Homo sapiens: one gene and its partners. The protein of the gene in region 2 purifies or fractionates together with the protein of the main gene of each other region. This does not show direct contact. Each region holds a gene or a part of one and is shown on either strand. Other genes may lie near its edges.

Evidence for each region.
Region 1: the proteins of MCFD2 (region 2) and HKDC1 purify together in Homo sapiens (affinity purification with mass spectrometry; one large-scale study listed by BioGRID and IntAct). This does not show direct contact.
Region 3: the proteins of MCFD2 (region 2) and AGL fractionate together in Homo sapiens (co-fractionation; one large-scale study listed by BioGRID). This does not show direct contact.
Region 4: the proteins of MCFD2 (region 2) and KLHL13 purify together in Homo sapiens (affinity purification with mass spectrometry; one large-scale study listed by BioGRID and IntAct). This does not show direct contact.

Annotation. Positions count from the first base shown.
Region 1 is NC_000010.11:69,265,111-69,269,030, reverse strand, and holds the end of HKDC1 (hexokinase HKDC1), read right to left. Parts: intron 3,447-3,920; coding exon 3,213-3,446; intron 2,422-3,212; coding exon 2,274-2,421; 3' UTR 1,479-2,273; downstream 1-1,478. UniProt on the Homo sapiens protein: Catalyzes the phosphorylation of hexose to hexose 6-phosphate, although at very low level compared to other hexokinases. Has low glucose phosphorylating activity compared to other hexokinases. Involved in glucose homeostasis and hepatic lipid accumulation.
Region 2 is NC_000002.12:46,903,591-46,905,806, reverse strand, and holds part of MCFD2 (multiple coagulation factor deficiency protein 2 isoform A precursor), read left to right. Parts: intron 1-212; coding exon 213-344; 3' UTR 345-2,216. UniProt on the Homo sapiens protein: The MCFD2-LMAN1 complex forms a specific cargo receptor for the ER-to-Golgi transport of selected proteins. Plays a role in the secretion of coagulation factors.
Region 3 is NC_000001.11:99,884,640-99,889,338, reverse strand, and holds part of AGL (glycogen debranching enzyme), read right to left. Parts: coding exon 4,636-4,699; intron 1,362-4,635; coding exon 1,231-1,361; intron 1-1,230. UniProt on the Homo sapiens protein: Multifunctional enzyme acting as 1,4-alpha-D-glucan:1,4-alpha-D-glucan 4-alpha-D-glycosyltransferase and amylo-1,6-glucosidase in glycogen degradation.
Region 4 is NC_000023.11:117,902,833-117,907,531, forward strand, and holds part of KLHL13 (kelch-like protein 13), read right to left. Parts: intron 1-4,699. UniProt on the Homo sapiens protein: Substrate-specific adapter of a BCR (BTB-CUL3-RBX1) E3 ubiquitin-protein ligase complex required for mitotic progression and cytokinesis.

The DNA.
Region 1 (3,920 bases), on a different chromosome or scaffold from region 2:
CCCGCTTCAGCAAATGGTGACGCTTAGAGCTGGAATCCAAAAACTTTTTTTTTTTTTGAGACAGAGTCTCGCTCTGTCACCCAGACTGGAGTGCAGTTGCTCAATCTCGGCTCACTGCAACCTCCACCCCCCAGGTTCAAGTGATTCTCCTGACTCAGCCTCCCAAGTAGCTGGGATCACAAGGATACACCACCACGCCCGGCTATTTTTTTTTTTTTTTGTATGTTTAGTAGAGACGGGGTTTCACCATGCTGGCCAGGCTGGTCTCAAACTCCTGAACTCAAGTGATCTGCCTGCTTCAGCCACCCAAAGTGCTAGGATTACAGGCATGAGCCACCACGCCTGACCAAAGCCATAATCTTTTGAAGAGACAGCAAGAGCACTCTGTGGAGTTGTCATACTTAAGTATGTAATTAAGCACATAAATACAAATAAAATCACTGTGGATTATTCTTTTCAGTTTGTTTCCCATGACAATAGTTGTCTCTTTCCTTCCTTCCTTCCTTTTCTTTCTTTCTCTTTCTTTCTTTTTCTTTCTTTCTTTCTTTCATTTCTTTCTCTTTCTCTCTCTCTTTTTTTTTTTAAGAAGCAGGGTCTCTTTCCGTTGCCCAGGCTGCAGTGCAGTGGTGCAGTCATAGCTCATTGTAACCTCAAACCTAGACTCGAGAGATACCCCGCACCTCAGCCTCCTGAGTGGCTGGGACTGCAGGTGTGCACCACCACATTCAACTAATTTTAAAAATTTTTCTGTACAGATGGGGGTCTTGATATGTTGCCCAAGCTGATCTTGAACTCCTGGCCTCAAGCAATCTTCCAGACTTGGCCTCCCAAAGTGCTGAGATTACAGGTGTGAGCCACCATACCCAGTCTATACTTTATCTGAAGAAAATTTCTTGAAAAGTTCTATTTCTTCAATCATGCCTCCCACAAGTAAGTATTTGATAGGAATGGCACAGTGCTAGGTTCACTAGAGCAATACAAGAATGTGTTTGACAAAGAGTTTACAATCTATCTGGCCAGATGTGAAACTCATACAGATAACTATGTGGCAGAACAGAAAGGCACAGGCAGTTCAGGTAAAGTGGGGAAGAGAGGAGAGAGAGAGGAAGTCCACTGGAGAAATGGTCAGGGACAGGCCTATTACACATAGTTCTGCAGGGTAGAATGGAGATCAGTGGGGTGTATGGGAGGAACCGAGCTCAGAAGTCAGAAGGACTTCCAGTCCACTCCAGCCGTTCAAAAGCAAGAGCTGTAGGATCATGTGGGAAATGCTCAGTTACTGGAAGTATTCTAAAGACATCTGGATAATCTGTTAAGGATATTGTAGAAGATATTCCATATATTACCCCTGTTGGTAGGAAGTTTGGACTCGAGAAAAATGCTCAAGCTCCTTCTGACTCTGCATCCCTTATTCCATCAACAAAGCATGGTATTACCAAGTGAGCCTCCCAGAAGAAATATCACCACTTCATGCAAAGTTTATTGGAAAATCAAAATTTTTTTATTAATTTACTGGATTTCCTATACCTAACAATCCTTAAAACAACTATCAACACCTGCAACACAAACCACAGGCAAAATGAAAAACAGATGCCCCAGACAGCACCCCACCACATGGCACACACTTAATAAGGAACAAAATCCTACAGGGTGCTGACATAACTCGCTTTAAGCATGCAATGATTCCTGCAGTGCTCCCTGGCAATCAACCTCTCTGCACCCTGGGGCTGGATACTTCAAAGTCTTTGTTCTCTTAATAGGTTTGAAGTCAACATGGCAAGTTAAGGACAAGTTAGATGAGATCCCCCTAGTTCATAACGTGAGTTCCTCTTGCTCTCCAATGTTCATCCACAAGTACAGGGTCCAATCCCCTATAAGAGATGGCTTAAGCATCCCAATGGGGAAACAGCCTGCCAGCCACATGGGCAGATTCTATATATTTCCAAGTCCCGCAGCCACAAGACTGAAAGCCATAGAGAATTGACAGCTCAAGCCTCACCTGAACAATGTGTTGAAAGGGGATCTCTCAGGACAGACACTTTGATTTCATAAGTTGGCCCATTTTGGCCCAAATATACCAAATAGAGATGTCATGTAATGTCACTGCAAATCCAGTACAAGATACTAAGAGTACCCGAGAACCTGGGGTTCTCTTTCGGCCATCCAGAAGGTGAGGTCAGCCAGGAGGGTGCCCATTGGTCTCTGACCAACTGATCTGCCAGAGGAAAAGCTGTTCAGTATCCAAGATGCATCAGGTCCAATCCCAGGGGTTCCTAGTTCTCCTTCTGTGCCTGCTGTAACCTCTTGGCCACAGCAGTGATCAGTGCTGCCCCTTTTCCACTGCCATCTTCTGACAGCATGAATGTCACATCACATCGAGGGGCTAGTTCCTTCACAGTTTCCTGCAATATTCTAGAAAAGCTATGAAAAAGAGAAAGAAACATCATCAGCCCTTCCATGTAGAATCAGAACATTTATAAATGATCATAATCTAATTTCTTTAGCTTCTTCCCTTTGGTTTGCTTTTCAAGGCTCTAAACAGCTTCTTCTAATTTTTTTTTTTTTTTAGACATGGTCTCACTCTGTTGCCCAGGGTGTAGACTGCAGTTGTGCAATCACAGCCCACTGCAGCCTCGAGTTCCCAGGCTCAAGCCCCCCAGCTCAGCCTCCCATGTAGCTGGGACCACAGGTATGCACTATCACGCCCAGCTAATATTTGTAATTTTTGTTCATTTTGTATTTTATTTATTTATGTTTGTGGAAATGGAGTCTCCCTGTGTTGCCCAGGCTGGTCTCAAACTCCTGGGCTCAAGTGATCCTCCCGTCTGCCATTACAGGCATGAGCCACTGCACTCAGCCAACTTACATTTCTTGAGCCCCGTGTGAAGCACTTTACATGTGCTAACTCATTTCAACCTCACACATTTAGCCCTATGTGGTAGGGATTATTAGTGCTGGCCTTTTGTGGATGAGGAACCTGGGGTTTAGAGAGGCCGGCTAACATTCCCACATCGTATTACCAGGTAGCAGAGGCACCAGGGCTCACACCTTGTCTGTCAGATTGAATAGGTGACTTGACCACACAGCACTCCTTTCCCATAAAAGGACGGGGATGCATCTTCCCATGCCGCAGTTCAGGAGGCTATGCCAAGTCCACACTTGGCCGCCAGCCCTCCCCAGCCCCACCCGCCACGCCTCTTGTGGGCACTCACTGAGGGTGCAGCTTGTACAGGGTGCCGTCCACACCCACAGTGATCCTCAGGTGCTCTAGCCCCTGGTCTTCTCTCCTTTTTTCCACTATAGCGGCCAGGCCAGCACCGCAGAGCTGGGCCGCCCGCCGGGACACGGCTCCGCACACCTCCTTCACCACGATGCTGTCCTCACACGTGCTGTCCAGGCCCAGCTGCTGCAGAATCCTCCTGACCTGGAGAAGGGCCAGCCGATCGCTGCAGGCAATAGAGCAGGGAGTCAGGACCTGCTTCCCAGGACCCCGGGATGTGCCCAGTGTGACCCACAGCCTCCCCATTCTTAGATGCCCTTACAGGAGGGAGGAGAAATTGACCCAGGCAATGGCTAGGCTGGAGCAGAATGCCTTAGAAGCCGAGACTCAAGAAGGTCCACCACCCCTGGAAGTTCCATCAACTTTAAAAAATAAAGTGTGAATGCCTCTGGTGTTCAGCATGTTCATATCTGTGATCTCACTAGAAGCCATATGAGCTGCAGCAACCAACACACCAGGTACCCATTTTTCAGAAGAGGAGGCTGTGGCTCAGCCTGCTAGAGCTGTGCCCTCTCGTTAGAGAGCAGGGGCTCAAATTCAAGCCTTTTCACACCACCTCTCGCACTTTCCCACAAATCGTGCCAGCTCCCACACTCTGGCCCCCTTCAATTGGAGGCCAACTTTCCTTCTATTTAACTTT
Region 2 (2,216 bases):
CTATATATCTAGATTCCTAGAAGTAGCCCCATACTCCATTGAAAGTTTTTGGACACATATGAGCGTGGATATTTTGTTGTTTTGTTTTTCCTTTTTTTTTTTTTTTTTTTTAATAAACAGTGCCATGAAAGAACATGGATATTTTGGACGTTAGTTAAGCACTTCTTCCGGTAAAATGCGCAACTCATCATTGTCTAATTTGTATTTTGTAGGAAGGGAGTGAACAGGCACCACTAATGAGTGAAGATGAACTGATTAACATAATAGATGGTGTTTTGAGAGATGATGACAAGAACAATGATGGATACATTGACTATGCTGAATTTGCAAAATCACTGCAGTAGATGTTATTTGGCCATCTCCTGGTTATATACAAATGTGACCCGTGATAATGTGATTGAACACTTTAGTAATGCAAAATAACTCATTTCCAACTACTGCTGCAGCATTTTGGTAAAAACCTGTAGCGATTCGTTACACTGGGGTGAGAAGAGATAAGAGAAATGAAAGAGAAGAGAAATGGGACATCTAATAGTCCCTAAGTGCTATTAAATACCTTATTGGACAAGGGCTTGCTTCAAGCATCTGTATTAGTCTGTATTAATGCTGCTGATAAAGACGTACCCGAGACTGGGAAGAAAAAGAGGTTTACTTGGACTTACAGTTCCACATGGCTGGGGAGGCCTCAGAATCATGGCGGGAGGTGAAAGGCACTTCTTACATGGCAGCAAGAGAAAATGAGGAAGAAGCAAAAGTGGAAACCCCTGATAAGCCATCAGATCTTGTGAAACTTATTCACTATCACAAGAATAGCATGGGAAAGACTGGCCCCCATGATTCAATTACCTCCCCTTGGGTCTCTCCCACAACACGTGGGAATTCTGGTAGATACAATTTCAAGTTGAGATTTGGGTGGGGACATAGCCAAACCATATCATTCTACCCCTGGCCCCTCCAAATCTCATGTCCTCACTATTCAAAACCAATCATGCCTTCCTAACAGTCCCCCAAAGTCTTAACTCTTTTCAGCATTAACGCAAAAATCCACAGTCCAAAGTCTCATCTGAGACAAGGCAAGTCCCTTCCACCTATGAGCCTGTAAAATCAAAAGCAAGCTAGTTACTTCCTAGATACCAACAGGGGTACAGGTATTGATTAAAGACGGCTGTTCCAAATGGGAGAAATTGGCCAAAATAAAGGGGTTACAGGGCCCATGCAAGTCCGAAATCCAGCAGGGCTGTCAAATTTTAAAGTTCCAGAATAATCTCCTTTGACTCCAGGTCTCACATCCAGGTCATACTGATGCAAGAAGTGGGTTCCCATGGTCTTGGGCAGCTCTGCCCCTGTGGCTTTGTAGGGTACAGCCTCCCTCCTGGCTGCTTTCACGGCTGTTGTTCAGTGCCTGCGGCTTTTCCAGGTGCACGGTGCAAGCTGTTGGTGGATCTACCATTCTGGGGTCTGGAGGACGGTGGCCCTCTTCTCACAGCTCCACTAGGCAGTGCCCCAGTAGGGACTCTGTGTGGGGGCTCCCACACCACATTTCCCTTCTGCACTGCCCTAGCAGAGGTTCTCTCCCCTGCCGCTGAGAGGGCCTCTCCCCTGCAGCAAACGTTTGCCTGGGCATTGAGGCATTTCCATACATCTTCTGAAAACTAGGCGGAGGTTTCCAAATCTCAATTCTTGACTTCTGTGCACCTGCAGGCTTAACAGCACATAGAAGCTGCCAAGGCTTGGGGCTTCCACTCTGAAGCCACAGCCCGAGCTGTATGTTGGCCCCTTTCAGCCATGGCTGGAGTGGCTGGGACACAAGACACCAAGTCCCTAGGCTGCACACACATGTCAGGGGCTGCCCTGACATGGCCTGGAGACATTTTCCCCATGGTGTTGGGGATTAACATTAGGCTCCTTGCTACTTATGCAAATTTCTGCAGCTGGCTTGAATTTCTCCCCAGAAAATGGGTTTTTCTTTTCTATTGCATAGTCAGGCTGCAAATTTCCAAACTTTTATGCTTTGCTTCCCTTATTTATAAGGGAATGCCTTTAAAAGCACCCAAGTCACCTGTTGAACACTTTGCTGCTTAGAAATTTCTTCCGCTAGTTAACCTAAATCATCTCTCTCAAGTTCAAAGTTCCACAAATCCCTATGGAAGGGGCAAAATGCTGCCAGTCTCTTTGCTAAAACATAACAAGAGTCACCTTTACTCCAGTTCCCAACA
Region 3 (4,699 bases), on a different chromosome or scaffold from region 2:
AAAAAAGTTTATTGAGAACCGCTTACGTGCTTGGTTTTGCAGAAAGTATAAAAGCTAAAAGACAAGAAGCATAAAAAAGATAAAACTTAATTCTTCTTTCTGAAAGTGTGCAGCCTACTTAGTGTGGTTTTAAGGCTAACAATTTCCAATTACTTAGTATGAATTAGGTGTCGTCTAATGAGCTGTTCACATGTATTAATTCATTAATCCTAACCATAATCCCTGTGGTAGGTACCATTTTGCAGGGGAAAAGTAAGCCATAGAGCATTTACTTCAGGTTATAAAACTAGTCAATGTAACCCAGGAAATCTGGTTTTAAAGCCTGTTTCTTAATCACAATGATAAAGATTCACAAAAATCATTATACTAACTATCAAAATAAGGCAATATATTTCAAGGGCCAAGTAAGAGGTATAGAAAATAAATGCAATGGTGTCTGGAGGACAAAGAAATTACTGTAAAAAGCAATAGTTAAAGAAGGTTTTATGAAAGATGCAAGAATTAAATTAGTCCTTAAAGATAGGTTAGATGGAGAAAGAAATAAAGAGTTGAACAAAAGGCATAAGTGAAAACTATATGAACCAGGAATACAGGTGTGATAAAGCAAATTTCTTAAACATCTAAGTAAATATTACCAACTAGATGAATAAAACTGATAAATACTTAATTCCTTTAACTCATCTTACAACTACTGTATGTTTTACTGTAAGTTCTCTTTACAGGATAAAACAAATATGCAATAAAATATATTTCCAATTAGATTTAAAAAAAGGTGAATGGATTATATTTACAACCTAATCCCACTTGGGGCCCAAACAAGAATATTCTGTTTATTATATAATAAACCAGGTCAAGAAACATTAATCAAGGTCCAAGTATACATAAAGAGCTATACAGACCTTAAGGAAAGAGATAGAACTAGTATTTCTAGGTAAAATTTACTGGGTAATTACTTTGTGTTACATCCTGTTTTCAGTGTTTTATGTGAATGATCTCATTAATCCTCACAAAAACCTTCTAAATTAGATAATATTATTCAAATTTTATAGAAGCAGAAATTGGCACACAAAGAGGTTATATTACTTGCCAAAGGTCAATTAATGAGCAGAAGCAGAGCCATAATTGCAACCCAAGTAGGCATACTCTGAGCCTATATCTATGTCTGTAAAGAAGACACCAGATGACCCTAAAAGAAAAACACAAAGCTCAGCTATCCTTCCATTTGCTTACCTTGAAGACCTGCATATTTAAGGGCTGACCAGTTTGGTATGTCATAGCACCCTCCACCATCTTCCTTTTCTTCTGATTCACATCGGTAAAGGATCTGATTTAGCTCAGCCAAAGTTAATCTGGAGGCAAGACTAAGAATTGGAAAATAAAGATAACCATATATTGAAGTTTCGCTTGTTGTCAATAGAAACAAAAGAAGAAAATCTGAATTACAATCATAAAATGTCTTAGCAGTGTATGTTTTAGGAACTCAGCATTCAAATAAACATTATACTCATACATTTTAAGTAATTATTAAAGGACAAATTGTGAAAAAAAATTCAATTAGAAGCGACATTACTCCCAAACCAAGCAAATAATCAAGTACCAAATTGTATTGATTAGAAGTATGCTGGGAAAATATTTTGGCTTCTATATCCTTTATCTTATAAATCTGTTTTTTTAACCTTTCTAGTTTGGACTTAGTGTTTTCCTTCCTTCCTTCATTTATTTATGTGTTCTCATCTGATTTCTCTCCTTTATATTCCCCTAAGTGAGACATCAAGAACTTTTTATGCTAGTTATTGTATACTAAAAATACTTATCAGAGGATGACTAAAGGAATAAAAAGTCAAAGTTAATTGCCTAGGAAATCACATGCTCTCTACCTTCATATTTCTCTCCAAGTCCCTTCCTTTCTCTTCTCTAAGGTTGCACTGCCCCTCAGCTTGTTTATTCAAGAAACCAGGATTTTTCTCAGATTAAGATGCCTCCTGATAACTGTCAGAGGGAAGACTATCATGGCCTTGATTTCCCTTTGTTTGGTTAGCAGTAAGACTGTATAACTGACCACACCTGAATACAGCTGAAACTGTATTTTCTTGTGCTTCTATAATAGATGCTCAGGTAATTTCATTTTACATGACTGCTATTTTATGTGAACACATATCCTCTTGAATGTGTATCTTTCTTTCCCATTTAGTTCTGGCTCAATTTAGAAAATCATTGTCATCTGTGCTTTGTTCTCTCCATATCAGCCTCCCTCCCCAGAGCTAGTTTGTGAGTCAAGCCTGAGTCAAATCACTCAGAAGTCTCAGTATCAACTCCATTCTAGGACAATATTTTTCAATAGCCAGTGGACTCCTTGCCTAAAAATTACCTGGGGATCTTATAAAACTGCAAATTTCTTGGCCTTGCTCCAAAATAATCTGAGCAGGTCTGAGGAGGAACATGCATTTTACAAGCAGTCCATCCAAACACAAAGCTGCTTCATCACAGATTTTTTGGTTAAGAATGCAACTACTTTATTAAGAATAGTTTGAATTAGGAGTTAATATCCTTAACAATAAAAAGTCTTACAAAACAACAAAGAAAGCCGAACACAATAGCAAAATGGGGTAATACATAAAACAACACTTCAACAAATAAATACAAATGGCCAATGAACAAAATAATTTAGCTTAATATTTAAATTACATGAGATGTTATTTTTAACTATTTTATATTTACCAGTTTGATTAGTAACAGCTAACACTTATCAATCACTATGTGTCAAAAACTATTGTGTTTTACTCAAGTAATCTGTAAGAAAGGTGCTATAATTATGTCTATTATAAATTCTCAAAGATCTCTTTTTTTTTTTCTAGAGACAGGGTCTTGCTCTGTTGCCCAGGCTGGAGAGCAGTGGCACAATCATGGCTCATTGCAGCCTAGACCTCCTGGGCTCAACTGATGCTGATGCTGTTACCTCAGCTTCCTGAACAGCTGTGACCACAGGTGCATGCCACAACTTCCAGCTAATTTTTTTAAAACGTTTTGTAGAGATAGGGTCTCACTATGTTGCCCAGGCTGGTCTTGGACTCCTGGGCTCAAGCAATCCTCCCACCTTGGCCTACCAAAGTGCTGAGATTATAGGAGTGAGCCACTGCACTCAGCCAGGTCTTACTTCTTATAGCTAATAAGAGTCTGCAATGGAATTCAAATCCAGTTAGTCTGGTTCTATACTCCATGCCCTTAAACACTACGTTATAATAATATATACTCAGTATTGCTAATGATGGAAACTCTTGGATAGAGCTGAAAGTATTAATTATTATAATCTTTCTGGAGAAAATTTGGCAGTATGTATTAACAGCCTCAAATATATGGATATAGTCTAACCCAATGGTCCTTTTTGGCACCAGGGACTGGTTTCACAGAAGACATTTTTTCACAGACTGGGGGTGAGGGGCGTGGTTTTGGGATGATTCAAGTGCATTACATTTATTGTGTACTTTATTTCTACTATTATTACATTGTAATATATACTGAAATAATTATACAACTCACCATAATGTGGAATCAGTGGGACCCCTAAGCTTGTTTTCCTGCAACTAGACAGTCCCATATGGGGGTGATGGCAAACAGTGGCAGATCATCAGGCATTAGATTCTCATAGGCAGCATGCAATCTAAATCCCTCGCAGGGACAGTTCACAATAGGGTTCACGTCCCTATGAGAATCTAATGCAGCCACTGATCTGACAGGAGGCAGAGTTCAGGTGGTAATGCGAGTGATGGGGTGCAGCTGTAAATACAGATAAAGCTCACCTGCCACTCACCTCCTGCTGTGCGGCCTGGTTCCTAACAGGCCATGGACCAGTACCAGTCTGTGGCCCAGAGGTTGGGGACCCCTCGTCTAACCCAAAACTTCCATTTCTGAAAATATTTATACTAGTACTAATGATGGCAAACTATGAGCATTTACTATGTGCCAGGCATTGTATTAAGTGTTTTATAAGTGTTATCCTATTTAATTCTTACAAAATTTTCCAGATGGGAGACTGAGATGATGAAAGTTCTAAACAATAGATCCAAGATCATACTGACAGTAATGAAGCTAAAGTTAAACCTAGGTCTAAACCTCAAAACCTATATTCTTCTGTAGTATGCAGAAACATCTAGAAAGGGAATAACTAAGGATTCATGTAAAGATGAATGTACAAAGACATAAATAATAGGGAACAATTAGAAGCAATCTAGATGTCCAAAAATGGAAATTGTTTAAATAAATTATGGTAAAGCCATAAAGTAGAATAATATGTTGACATTTTTAAAAAATGATGTGGTAAAGGGTATGAGGTATGCAACTTAGTCTCAAATACTTCAGAGAAATTGTGTGTGTGTGTATACAGAGATGCATGCATGTGTTATGTATGCATGTAGGCATGTGTGTATCTATATCTATAGAGAGAATACACATGCAGGTACACACACAAATTATAAAACAATAGGGTAAAATGTTAACAACAGGTGATGCTGACACTGCTGGTCCTTGGACCGTACTTTGAGTAGCAAGGATATAGAGGACCCTTAAAACTGCTTAATTCAGTCTAGTGGTAACTTACTTATTAAGGTGGCAAATCTCTACCAAACAAGGCATACTTACGAAGCAAAAGGAATTTTTAATATAGGATCTGCATTGTCAACAGCTAGGCTGCCAGATTTAAAGT
Region 4 (4,699 bases), on a different chromosome or scaffold from region 2:
TGCTAATCCAATTTCTTGCGTCCCCCAACCCTACTTTTTTAAACTAACAGAACCACAACACTGCTTAGGGAAGCACTACACCAAGCTAAAAACGAAATTTAATTTAGCAGGTTCCCTTGAAGCTTTGGTCCACCATATGATATAGTTCTGGGCAGCGACGGGTAAGCAGAAGTTTATTGAGTAGGACAATTTGATCAAGCCACTGGAATTAGGTTTAGCTACTTGCAACCAAATGCAATCCTGATGAATCAACCTTTGAATGAGATTCTCTACTTAAAAAAAAATAACATGGTGACAGGCAAAACACACACACACACACACACACAGAGAGAGAGAGAGAGGAGAGCGAGAGAGAGAGAGAGAGAGAGAGAGACTACTTTTCCGCTCTATTCAATAATTTCATTTCATCATCAAATTCACTACGCAAAGTATGCTTTTCTCCTCCAAGCACACCTATATCATGCCACTTCTTGTATCTCTCTACTGACTTCCTTTTCCACTTACTTTAGCTTTGAATTTTCAGTCTTATTTCAAAGGCTTTTACTATTCTCATTTTTACCTACTGCTTTGTTGGCTTTGTTCATTGCTTTAGGCCTGGATCCTTGCCAATTCTATTTCTTTTAAACCCTATTTCTAAAATTAATAACAAGTTAAACTGCCACATGCCCCAGTACTGTTGTTTTTTTTTACTATTTCCAGTCACTGGATGCCTTTTCAAATGTTCATTTCTATTTGCCTTTGGCATGACTTTTACCTAACGGACAAGCAAAATCCTACATTATTATTCTCTCTCTCTCTCTCTCCTTCTCTCTCTCTCGCCACATAAGAGAAAACCTAGTGCATTGATTGGTACTTGGCATTAGCAAAGCCATTAATGGGAAGCTTTTAGAAGTAATTAAACCACACATCCTATCAGAAACGGGGTCTAAAAAGACTTCCAGATATCATCTTCATCTGCTTGAAGCCAAAGACAGGATTCACTATAGTTTTACACTTTTCTTAATGCGGGACTCTGACTTAAACTTTGAAATTTTTGGATTGTAACTGTCCTTTCTTATGTTTAATTCAAACTGTTCCAATGTGATTTCCATTAGTTTCTTCTTATTCTTTTTATAGTGGAGTTAGAATTTGAATACTTATTCACTTTTTATTATTATTAATATTTTCCTATGTAGAAAGATAATTCCTCTGTCAGTGACTTAATTGCATTTTCCCCTAATAGTGGTTATAAGAATCCATTTGTACTTTCTCACACAGGAGGCCCTCAGTTCAAGATAGCTATTAACCACCAATAACAAAATTACTATATAATAGTCCATCATTCTTAAGCTTTTTTCCAGCTAAAAATGCATCTCCTTTAGCTGTTCCAGGCATTTAATTTTTATTGTCAACTTTTATTGTCATGCAATTCTCCATGCAGAGTTGCTATTGTTATCAGTAAAATCAATAGTATTTTATTTTAAAATAAAATACATCTAATTAAAAAGTAGATACACATGCTCTTATTTCCATTTTCCATATTTACACGACACTCAGATATAGGTTAGTACCAACAACTCTGATGGGAAGAGGGAGTAAGGGATGATGCAAGGCAAAGAGTTGGAGCCACAAAGCAGTGCTTCAATCGTAGTCTATAAGAGTTGGAAATGGTAAAGAGGCAACTGGAAAAATCTAGAGCAGGTGGCAGCAAACCTCAGTCCATAGGCCAAATCCAGTCTACTTCCTGTTTTGTAGGGCCCAAAAGATAAAAATATGAATGATTTTACATTTTTTACACATTGAAAAAGAATCAAGACTATTTTGTAACTTATGAAAATTCTATAAAATTCAAATTTCATGTTCACAAATAAAGCTTTATTGGAGCACAGCCTCACTCATTTGTTTATGGATTATGTAGGGTTGCTTTTACACTACAACAGCAGAGTTGATTACTTGTGACAGAGATTTAATGGCCCACAAAGCTGGAAATAGACTCTTTCTGGCCCTTTACAAAAGTTTGCTGGCCCCTAATCTAGAGAATTAACTTCAGTAGTTTGGTGGCCTAGTGTTTACATTAAAGAATCTCTCCAATTTAAGAATTATACTTAGGTTGGTTATCTCACATATATCAGGAGTTCTTATTTTCTGAGATAATTCCATAGGAATCCAGAATCGGTCCCAGAAGAGGATGTGGAATTTATTTGTTCTTTAAGATTAGGAAAGAGATCAGCCTAAAGAAAATCATTTAAACAGTGATGGCTGTCATACAGGGGAGATGGACTCTAGAAACATAGAACGCTGGTGAGTGATCAAGAAACCCCCAAATCCTTTGGGGGGTATAGAGGCATTTAATAAATTTTAGTAGTTTTATTGTGCATGTATTTGAAAAACATCTAACATGTTTTCTATAAGTTATTTCATTATTTGAAACCTTAACTTATTAATATTTAACTGAAGTGAAAGATATTGGAGCTGTCATAATCTTCTTCAATATAGGAAGCCTCAATAGAAGATTGATTTCTTATATGACACAATTTTGAAAGATGCCAGAAATAACTGACTCCTTTTACACTTAAGTGACAGCTACTCTAAGCCTCCCCTAGTTTCCCATTGTAACCAGTGTCAAAGGAAAGCAGCATTTTGAAGGAATTATATTTCAGCACTAAACCAGGTGAGCACGTGTGCTAGTGCGTGCACACACACACACACACACACACACACACAGTCTTTTTTTGATGAACAATGGGCTTAGGTTTCCTTTGGTCCAAGTACCCCATGGAAAGATTTTAAAAGGCCTAATGCATTAAAGTGATCTAAACTGTCTTGCAAATGTTGCCACTGTTTTTTTTTTAATTTTTAATTTTTGTGGGTACATAGTACGTGTATATTTTTATGGGGTACATGAGATGTTTTGATGCAGGTATGCAATGTATAATAATCACATCATAGAAGATGGAGTATCCATCCTTTCAGGCATTTATCCTCTGTGTTACGAATAATCCAATTATATATACTCATACTTATTGTAAAACATACAATTAAATTATTATTGACTATAGTCACCCTGCTGTGCTATCAAATACTAGGCCTTATTAATTCATTCTAACTATTTTTGTACCCATCAAATTTTTCTTTTTATAATTATATACAGGCAATAGTTACTGTGTGTATGAAGTGATATACTGGTACTAATCAACCTATTAAATTGTTAAATGACTTTCCCATCAATCCCCTCTTCCTGCCACCCATTCCCATCACCTCCTTCTATTTACATAGGCATATGAATGTCTCAACTTAATCAGTTACAATGGGAATGTTAATTTATTATAACAGATGTTAATGTGTGCGTTGAAGGAGGAATTCTATTTTTAAAAAGCGCTTGTAGGGTAGGGGAAATGTTAAAACCTCAGTTTCTGGCAGGAACATTCAGAAATATAGGCAAGAGTTTCTTTAGAATCAAAATCTGCTATTCTGCAAAAACAATGGGTCCAAGAAAACTGGAAATGCCAACTAACACAAATTCATTTTTTATTTATATAAAGAGAAACACGATCATGGATAGAATTCAGGAAATTTCATTAATATTATTCTTTGGGAGCAATAGTAATCAAGGCAGGTTTCATCAAGTTTGGTTACCTCCGTAATACAGGATGTGACGTGACAAGACAATCTACTTCTTGCTTCTATTTGAGTATAACATAGAAAGAACTCAAAGGGGGTGGAGTGGATCAGAAACAAATGAAACCTCTTGCTTCTTGGCTTTATCTAATGACTCTTTTTGGCCTTTTTTCTCCTGAAATCAAGACTCTAAATTTGAATGCACTTACTAAGTCAATCACAAAATATTTTTTAAACTTCCAATATATTATATAATAAAATGTTTAGTACAGAATGCGTTTGATGGGTATGCTGATTTTAAGGGACGCAATCATTTTCTACAAAAGTTTAGCTACTTATAGGTTACAAATCTATGAGGTCATTATAGATTTGTAATCTATAGATCATTTCAAATGGAATAAAATATCAAATAATTGGATGATAACTAGAATTAGAATTCTTGGAATAGATGGTTTGTGCCTGTATTATAATGACATGTGCCTTTTTTTAAATGCAGTTTATGAAATAAGATTAAAATGGACCTATATTTACCATTAGAGGGGAAATTTTTTTAAGTCATTATCCTTAGGTTAAGCTTTAGAAATTTTATTGTTAAAGCCTAAATATGAATTTAGGAATACCCTAAGAAAAGCATGATTTCCTTGTTTCTTTTCCCTTTCAAAATGAAACACAGAAGACTGTTTTTAATCAGAGATGGAGGGGTGGTTTCTGAAGGTCAGGAGCAAGGATTCCTGTGTATGAGCCACTTGCCCAACAGTGTGGTCTATTTCTAGTTCCTAGATGGGTATACCATAGGAGCAGCTGAAAGAGAGTTGGGATAGGTTCAAAGAAAGAAGCCTCTAGCATCTTGGTTTTATGTAATGACTCTCCTTGGCCTGAAGATTAAAAACTCCCAGAAGAATATGGCTTTTAATTAGTATTAGGAACTATATATTGAAAGCTAAGTAGCCGCATATTAACAGGGGTGATAATATCAACAAGCAAGGACTGACTTTGAAAAACGGAGCTACTTCCTTTGAGAAAAGAAGACTGACCAAGTTAATGACCTGTTATTTGTGAAGAAAATATTTAAGAAAACATTATCTTATACAGGGATTTTCTA